Linked DNA regions of Homo sapiens: regions 1 and 2 are each linked to region 3. Evidence: fine-mapped expression QTL. A gene starts in region 3. Each other region holds a variant in brackets. All regions are shown on one strand. Distances are from middle to middle.

The links. PIP is the estimated chance that this variant, and not a neighbour inherited with it, causes the effect.
Region 1: its variant is the best candidate, but not a certain one, in a credible set for the expression of ARSH in minor salivary gland (GTEx, PIP 0.82).
Region 2: its variant is the best candidate, but not a certain one, in a credible set for the expression of ARSH in nasal epithelium (TOPMed, PIP 0.51).

The regions. Positions count from the first base shown.
Region 1 is chrX:3,026,499-3,029,266 of GRCh38, forward strand. It overlaps ARSH (arylsulfatase family member H), which reads left to right. Exons shown (of 9, transcript NM_001011719.2): 7 at 815-977; 8 at 2,749-2,768. Among named protein-coding and RNA genes, the nearest start is that of ARSF, 14 kb to the right of the region's middle. The variant G/A (reference allele first, on the strand shown) is at 1,464.
Region 2 is chrX:3,047,625-3,050,392 of GRCh38, forward strand. All of the region lies in intron 1 of ARSF (arylsulfatase F), which reads left to right. Among named protein-coding and RNA genes, the nearest start is that of ARSF, 7.5 kb to the left of the region's middle. The variant G/A (reference allele first, on the strand shown) is at 1,472.
Region 3 is chrX:3,004,947-3,007,714 of GRCh38, forward strand. ARSH (arylsulfatase family member H) reads left to right here and starts at 1,600. Exons shown (of 9, transcript NM_001011719.2): 1 at 1,600-1,758. The coding sequence starts at 1,667.

The DNA.
Region 1 (2,768 bases), 22 kb after region 3:
TTCACATAGGAAGAGACCTTTTCCTCCAGAGAGGTTCCTATTTTTTCTTAAAGAGTCTAGACATATGGTCTTGACACTGGCATTTGGCATAGGGCCATTTTTCTATTCTGTAACAACCGCCTCAGTCTCATGATTGATCTTACGGCAAGGGCTTCATTTTTGTTTTGTGCTCAGAAACACCCAAGGGGACTTTTGTCTAAGAAGTGATTCTCAACTCTGCCTCTGGCCATTTTTCTACTCACACTCCTCTCTTTCTTCCTCTATATGGGAAATCACGGGGTAAAGTTTTTTAGCTTGTTCCTCAAGGATCATTATAATGTGGATAAAACCTGTATTTTTCTTTTCTTTTTCTTTTTCTTTTTTATTTTTTGGAGACAGAGTCTCACCCTGTCACCGAGGCTGGAGTGCAGTGGCACAATCTCAGCTCACTGCAATCTCCACTTCCTCGTCTCTGATCCCCCGACTTCAGCCTCCCGAGTAGGTGGGACTACAGGCATGCACCACCATGGAGTGCAGTGGCGTGATCTCGGCTCACCACAACCTTCGCCTCCTGGGTTTAAGCGATTCTCCTGCCTCAGCCTCCCACGTAGCTTGGATTACAGGCGCCCACCACCATGCCCAGCTAATGGTTTTGTATTTTTAGCAGAGACGGGGTTTCACCATGTTGGCCAGGCTGGTCTTGAACTCCTGACCTCAAGTGATCCGCCCACCTCGGCCCCCCAAAGTGCTGGGATTACAGGCGTGAGCCACCGTGCCCGGCCAATATGGTTGGGTTTTAACTCATCTTTGGTTGTGTCGTAATCTTTGGTTTTAGGTGGCAAAGGAATGGGAGGATGGGAAGGAGGTATCCGTGTGCCAGGGATATTCCGGTGGCCGTCAGTCTTGGAGGCTGGGAGAGTGATCAATGAGCCCACCAGCTTAATGGACATCTATCCGACGCTGTCTTATATAGGCGGAGGGATCTTGTCCCAGGACAGGTATGGAAACAGTGTTTGCTCCTAACCTAGGGTGATATATTTGAACATAAGTGGATATACTTGATAATTCTATGTGTGTGTGTATGTACATAGTATATTACTTAATTATCAATATTCTGCCCATAGGGCCAGATGTCTTTCTCCCCTTGGTGCGTGGTGGAATATTTTGTTTTCTTCTTAGAGTATACCTTAATATCCTTTGTCATATTACACTTATGCCTGTGTGTGTTTGACTGTTCTCATGGATGGGATCTGATTCTCATACATCATCACATCCCTCACAGCTTCTAGACCATTATGCAATTAAGTGTTAAATGATTACTGAATAAAAACATGTATGCCTAGAGCAGGTGCGGTGGCTCGTGCCTGTAATCCTAGCACTTTGGGAGGTCAAGGCTGGCGGATCACTTGAAGTCAGGAGTTCGAGACCAGCCTGGCCAACATGGTGAAACCCCCATCTCTACTAAAAATACAAAAATCAGTCTG[G/A]TGTGGTGGCACGTGCCTGTAATCCCAGCTACCTGGGAGGCTGAGGTGGGAGGATCGCTTGAACCCAGGAGGTAGAGATTGCAGTGAGCCGAGATCTCGTCACTGCACTCCAGCCTGGGTGACAGGGTGATGCCCTGTTTCAAACAAAAACAAAAACGAAAACAAAACACGTATGTGTAATTGCATGTGTGCTAAATGATATTATTCTTTCTGGTTTGCACTTTGTCTATGAGCTTATTTTTAATTTAATTTAAATTTATTTTTTTTGAGACAGAGTCTCGTCCTGTCAGCCAGGCTGGAATGCAGTGGTGTGATCTCGGCTCAGTGCAATCTCTGCGTCCCGGGTTCAAGTGATTCTTCTGCCTCAGCCTCCTGAGTAGCTGGGACTACAGGCGGGCGCCACCATGCTCAGCTAATTTTTGTATTTTTAGTAGAGATGGGGTTTCAGCATGTTGGCCAGGATGGTCTCGATCTCTTGACCTCGTGATCCACCCACCTCGGCCTCCCAAAGTGCTGGGATTACAGGCACGAGCCACCAGGCCTGGCTTTGTCTATGAGCTTTAAAATGAACAAATACATCCTGTGCTTTAACGATTTAATTCCATGTATGTGGGGTGATATCTATTCATTAAATGTGAAGTTTTATTGGAATCAAAAGGGCGTAAATAGCTTAATTTTTCCAATCCACAACAGTAACTCATATTGTCTTGCAAGGTATCAGGATAATAGTTCTAGCTGTTCTCTTCTTCCATGACCTCAGAAAATGAATGTTTTGTTTCTCTTTCTTTTTGTTATAAAATGAGGGAAAAGGAGAAAGTTTTAAGAATTCCTTCTTCCGCCAGGCGCCGTGGCTCACGCCTGTAATCCTAGCACTTTGGGAGGCCGAGGCAGGCGGATCATGAGGTCAGGAGTTCGAGACCAGCCTGGCCAACATGGTGAAACCCCGTCTGTACTAAAAATACAAAAATTAGCAGGGCATGGTGGCGTGTGCCTGTAATCCCAGCTACTTGGGAAGCTGAGGCAGGAGAATTGCTTGAACCCGGGAGGCGGAGGTTGCAGTGAGCAGAGATCGCACCATTGCACTCCAGCCTGGGTGACAGAGCAAGACTCCATTTCAAAAAAAAAAAAAAAGAAAAAAGAAATTCTTCCTCTTTATCTTTCGCCTCCTTCTCTTCCTCCCCTTCCTTTTCCTCCTCCTCCTCCTCCTCCTCTTTCTTCTGCTATAAAATGCGTGACTGAACCATGCCTCTCTCATCACCTTCTACACACCCCCTTCTCTCCCAAGAGTGATTGACGGCCAGAACC
Region 2 (2,768 bases), 43 kb after region 3:
GGTGGACTAGGTAAACACCACTACAAGGTCTGTTTATCCTGAAAAGGGGACTGCCCAGCCCTCCCTATAAAATGCCAAGTGGAGCACCCTAGATAAAGCAGCTGATGTGCTTCATATGCAAGCCATGTGGGATTGGCTTAATGATGACCGGGATATTCACCAGCTGAATATGCCCATTACCCAATGTATTAGTCCGTTTTCATGCTGCTGATAAAGACATACCCGAGATTGGGCAATTTACAAAAGAAAGAGGGGTAATTAGACTTACAGTTCCACGTGGTGGGGGAAGCCTCACGATCATGGTGGAGGGCAGGGAGGAACAAGTCACATCTTACATGGATGGTGGCAGGCAAAGAAAGAGAGCCAAGCGAAAGGAGTTTCTCCTTGTAAAACCATCAGATCTCGTGAGACTCATTCACTACCACAAGAATAATATGGAGGAAACTGCCACCAGAATTCAATTATCTCCCACCAGGTCCCTCCCACAACAATGGGAATTATGGGAGATACAATTCAAGATGAGCTTTGGGTGTGGACACAGTCAAACTATATCACCGAGGTCATAGTGTGAAAGGAAAATAAATCTCAGGACCCCAAAATCACTAAGCCAAGGGAAAAGTCAAGCTGGGAACTGTGTCAGGCAAGCCTGCCTCCCATTTGATTCTTAAATAAGACAGCTACAAAGATAAGAAGCTACATACCCCCCTCACAATTTGTGCTTAAGGAAATTCCTTGTGGACAAAGGACAGACGGAACTCAAAGTCATCCTTCCAAGGCTCCCCTGAGACAAATGCTTATCTGATAACTTCCTCTGCCTCATTGCTTATGTAAAAGTACAGATTCACGGAGCCAGCCTAAATTGTGTATTCAGTGGAAAGCTGATCAAGGACTCAAAAGAATGTAACCTTTTGTCTCGTGTCTACTTCTAATCTGAAAGCTCCCACTTCAAGTTGTCCTGAATTACTGAACTGAGCCCATGTATGTCTTACACATATTGATTGATGTCTCATGTCTCCCTAAAATATATAAAAGCAAGCTGTGCCCTGAACACCTTGGGCACATGTCGTCAGGACTTCCTGAGGCTGTGTCACAGGTGCACGTTCTCAACCTTGGTAAAATAAACTTTCTAAATTGACTGAGACCTGTCTCAGATATTTTGGGTTCGCAATAGATTCTCAGTGTATTAATGATGTTAGGTGAAGAACTGTGAAGCTCATAAATTTGGAAAGGAAAGGTTTATTTCTATAAATGTTGTGGTTCAAGGGTCCCCTTCTACAAGAGCACCCCAGGTGACATTACTCTTGCAGAATCAAACAATGGTTTGAGAAACCTTATCAAATTTGCAGTTGTAGCTTTCCCTCATGGGTCTTACAGATGCTACCAAAAGACTAGGGTGTCAACGAGAAGAGACAAACTGTAAATTTTTTTAAGAGGTTTATTCTGAGCCAAATATGAGTGACCATGGCCGCCC[G/A]TGACGCAGACTTCAGGAGATCCTGAGAACATGCGCCCAATGTGGTCTGCGTACAGCTTGGTTTTCTACATTTTAGGGAGACATGAGATATCGATCAATACATGTAAGACGTACATTGTTTCCATTCAAAAAAGGTGAGATAACTCAAAGTGGGGGATTCCAGCTCATGGATGGACAAGACACAGAAGGTTGCATTCTTTTCGGTCTTTGATCAGAATACACAATTTACATGTGACGGAGGTTGGGGGGTGGGGGTGGTGGGTAGAGGAATAGTGACTGATGCCTGTTCAGTGAATCTGCAAGTTTGCGTAAACAATAGGGCAGGGGAATCTATCAGATATGCATTTGTCTCAGGTGAGCAGAGAGGGCTGACTTTCACTTCTGTCTCTCCTTTGACCCACACCTGTGAAGATAAGCCAAGGTGAAATTGAACAGAACTGTTTTAGGGTAAAGATCTTGAGGTCCACAAAAAATTTCTTTGTGGGCAAATTATGAAAGAGGTATGTAGCTTTTTGTTTTGTTTTGTTTGTTTGTTTGTTTGTTTTTGTCTCCATAGCTGTCTTATTTAGGAGAAAATGGGAGGCAGGTTTTTCTGATGCAGTTCCCAGCTTGCCTTTTCCCCTTGGCTTGGGGATTTTGGTTTCCTTTCACTAATTAACAAACAAAATTAATAAATTAACAAACAAAAACAGGGAAGGGAAAAGTGAGTCAAAGGGCTCATGCCAGAAGGGTGGAAATCTTTAGATAATTATTTTGTTATTATTATTAATTTTTCTTTTTTTGAGATGGAGTTTCGCTCTTGTTGCCCAGGCTGACATGCAATGGTGCCATCTTGGCTCACTGCAACCCCACCTCCCAGGTTCAAGTGATTCTCCTGCCTCAACCTCCTGAGTAGCTGGGATTACAGGCACCTGCCACCACGCCCAGCTAATTTTTTTGTATTTTTAGTAGAGACGAAGTTTCACAATGTTGGGCAGGCTGGAATCTTTAGATAATTGTTAAGAAATAAAAGAAAAGGAAAATTGATGGAGTTAAAACAAAAGACTTTACAACATGATCAAAGGTTGGGTGGGCCACAGGGAGCCCCAACTGGTCCCCCAACATGAAGGGGCCCCATGCCAGTTTTCTTCATTTGCCTCAGATTGGAGAAGTTTAAGAAAAATTGAGGCTGGGCATGGTGGCTCAAGCCTGTAATCCCAGAACTTTGGGAGGCCAAGGCAGGCGGATCATCTGAGGTCAGGAGTTCGAGACCAGGCTGGCCAACATGGTGAAACCCCGTCTCTACTAAAAATACAGA
Region 3 (2,768 bases):
TTGCCCAGGCTGCAGTGCAGTGGCGCGATCTTGGCTCGCTGCAACCTCCGCCTCTCAGGTTCAGGCAATTATCCCTGCTTCAGCCTCCCGAGCAGATGGTATTACTTTTTTTTTTTTTTTGAGACGGAGTCTCACTCTTGCTACCCAGGCTGGAGTGCAGTGGTGCAATTTCAGCTCACTGCAACCTCCGCCTCCTGGGTTCAAGTGATTCTCCTGCCTCAGCCTCTGAAGTAGCTGGGACCACAGGCGCGTGTCACCATGCCCGGTTAATTTTGTATTTTTAGTAGAGATGGGGTTTCACCATGTTTGTCAGGCTGGTCTCAAACTCCTGACCTCAGGTATTCCACTTGCCTTGGCCTCTCAAAGCACTGGGATTACAGGCATGAGCCACTGTGCCCGGCCTTGGTTACATTTTTATTCAATAAAGTAAACAAAAAAGTTTTTTTTGAGATAGGGTCTTGCTCTATTGTCTAAGCTGGAGTGCAGTGGTGCATTCATAGCTCACTGCAATCCTGACCTCTCAGGCTCAAGCAATCCTCTCATCTCAGCCTCCTGAGTAGCTGGGATTATAGGAATGCATCACTATGCCCAGCTATTTTTGTATTGTTTGTAGAGATGGGGTTTCACCATGCTGCCCAGGCCAGTCTCAAACTTCTGGGCTCAAATGATCCACCCGCATTGGCCTTCCAAAGTGCTGGGATTACAGGCATGAGTCACAGCACCCGGCAAAATTCAATTTTTAGAGCTTACCCTCAACTGTAACCCCTGTTATAAATTTTAAGCCTCTGATGTCACTAAAACAATATCAAAAGATGTTATAAGAGTTAAACCTCATCATGCTTGCAAAATGAATTGGTAAAATATGATGCCATATTCGTATAGAACAATGGTCTCCAACATTTTTGGCACCAGGGTCTGGTTTTGTGGAAGACGGTTTTTCCACAGACAGGAAGGGGGTGCAGGATGGTTTCAGGATGATTCAAGCACATTACATTTATTGTGCACTTTATTTTTATTATTATTACACGATAATATATAATGAAATAATTATACAACTCATCGTAGTGTATGATCAGTGGGTGCCCTAAGCTTGTTTTCCTGTGACTAGATGATCCCATCTGGGGGTGATGGAAGACAGAGACAGATCATCAGGCATTAGATTCTCATAAAGAGCACACAACCTAGATCCTTTGCATGCACAGTTCACAATAGAGTTCTCGCTCCTATGAGAATCTAATGCTGCTACCGATCTGACAGGAGGTGGAGCTCAGGCAGTGATGCAAGCAATGGGGAGCGGCTGTCAATACAGATGAAGCTTCACTCATTTGCCCACCACTCACCTCCTGCTGTGTGGCCTGGTTGCTAACAGGCTACGGACCAGTACTGGTCCATGGCCAGGGGATTGGGGACCCCGGTATAGAACATTAGTTTTTGTTGTTGTTGTTTAATCTAGTTTCTGAGTAAGACAACACAGGTACGTTGTACAGTGAGAACTGATAACGAATATCACTGTTTCATATGTTAAGTTATCTAAAATGCAAATGTTAATTGATAGTGCCTGGTTTTTTGCTTGCTTGTTTGTTTGCTTATTTCTAAAAATGCTTTCAGGAGCTGCTGGCTGTCAGTGTCCCTGTGCTGTTTGTTTTGCGGTGTTGATGGCACATTTATGACAAGAAACGCCAGACCCAACATTGTCCTGCTGATGGCAGATGACCTTGGAGTGGGGGATTTGTGCTGCTACGGTAATAACTCAGTGAGGTAAAGATGGACTCTGACCCCCTCCCTGTATGTGGGAGTCTCCCTTACCACAGTGTTCACGTCTTTGCCGTTGCAGAGAAGGGTTTCTGGAGAGAAGTCATTGTCTGATGTTATCGGCAGGAATAGCAGAGGTCACTGGGGAAAATTGCAAAATGTCAGGAGACCACTTAACCTCCCAGTTTCCTTAGATTCTAGCTGTTGGTGGTGGCGTTTTCATTGTTGGGCAAAATTTACATTTAAAAATTGGCCTTTTTTGATCAGGCATGGCGGCTCAAGCCTATAATCCCAGCACTTTGGAAGGCCAAGGTGGGAGCATTGCTTGAGCCCAGGAGTTTGCGATCAGCCTGGGCAACACAGGGAGACCCCGTCTCTACAAAAATAATAAAAAAAAAAATCTACTGGGACATGGTGGCGTGTGTCTGTGGTCTCAGCTACTCAGGAGGCTGGGGCAGGAGGATTGCCTGAGCAAGGGAGATTGAGGCTGCAGTGAGCTATGATCCCACCACTGCACTCCAGCCTGGGTGACAGAGGGAGACTCTGTTTAAAAAAAAAAAAAAAAATCACCTTTTAACCATTTTAAAGTGAACAATTCAGTGGCATTTGGTACATTCACAGTGTTGGACAACCGTCACCCCCACAAAGAAGACCCCCATTTCCCATCCTATCCCCATGCCCTGTTAACCACAAATGTACCCTCTGTCTCTATGGATGTGTCTCTTCTTAGAATTTCATATACAAGTAATCATATAAAGTATTTATTTTCTCAGGCTGCCGTGACAAAGGTCCACAGACTGGTTGGCTTAGATAACATCAGCTTATTCTCTCACAGTCCTGGAGGCTGGAAGTTCAAGATCAAAGTGTGGGCAGGGCTGGTTCCTCCTGAGGCCTCTCTCCTGTCCTTGTAGATGCCGTCTTCTCCCTGTGTCTTCACAGGGTCGTCCCTCTGTGTGGGTCTGTGTCCTCATCTCTTCTTCTTATGAGGTGTCTTAGTCTATTTCAGGCTGCTATAA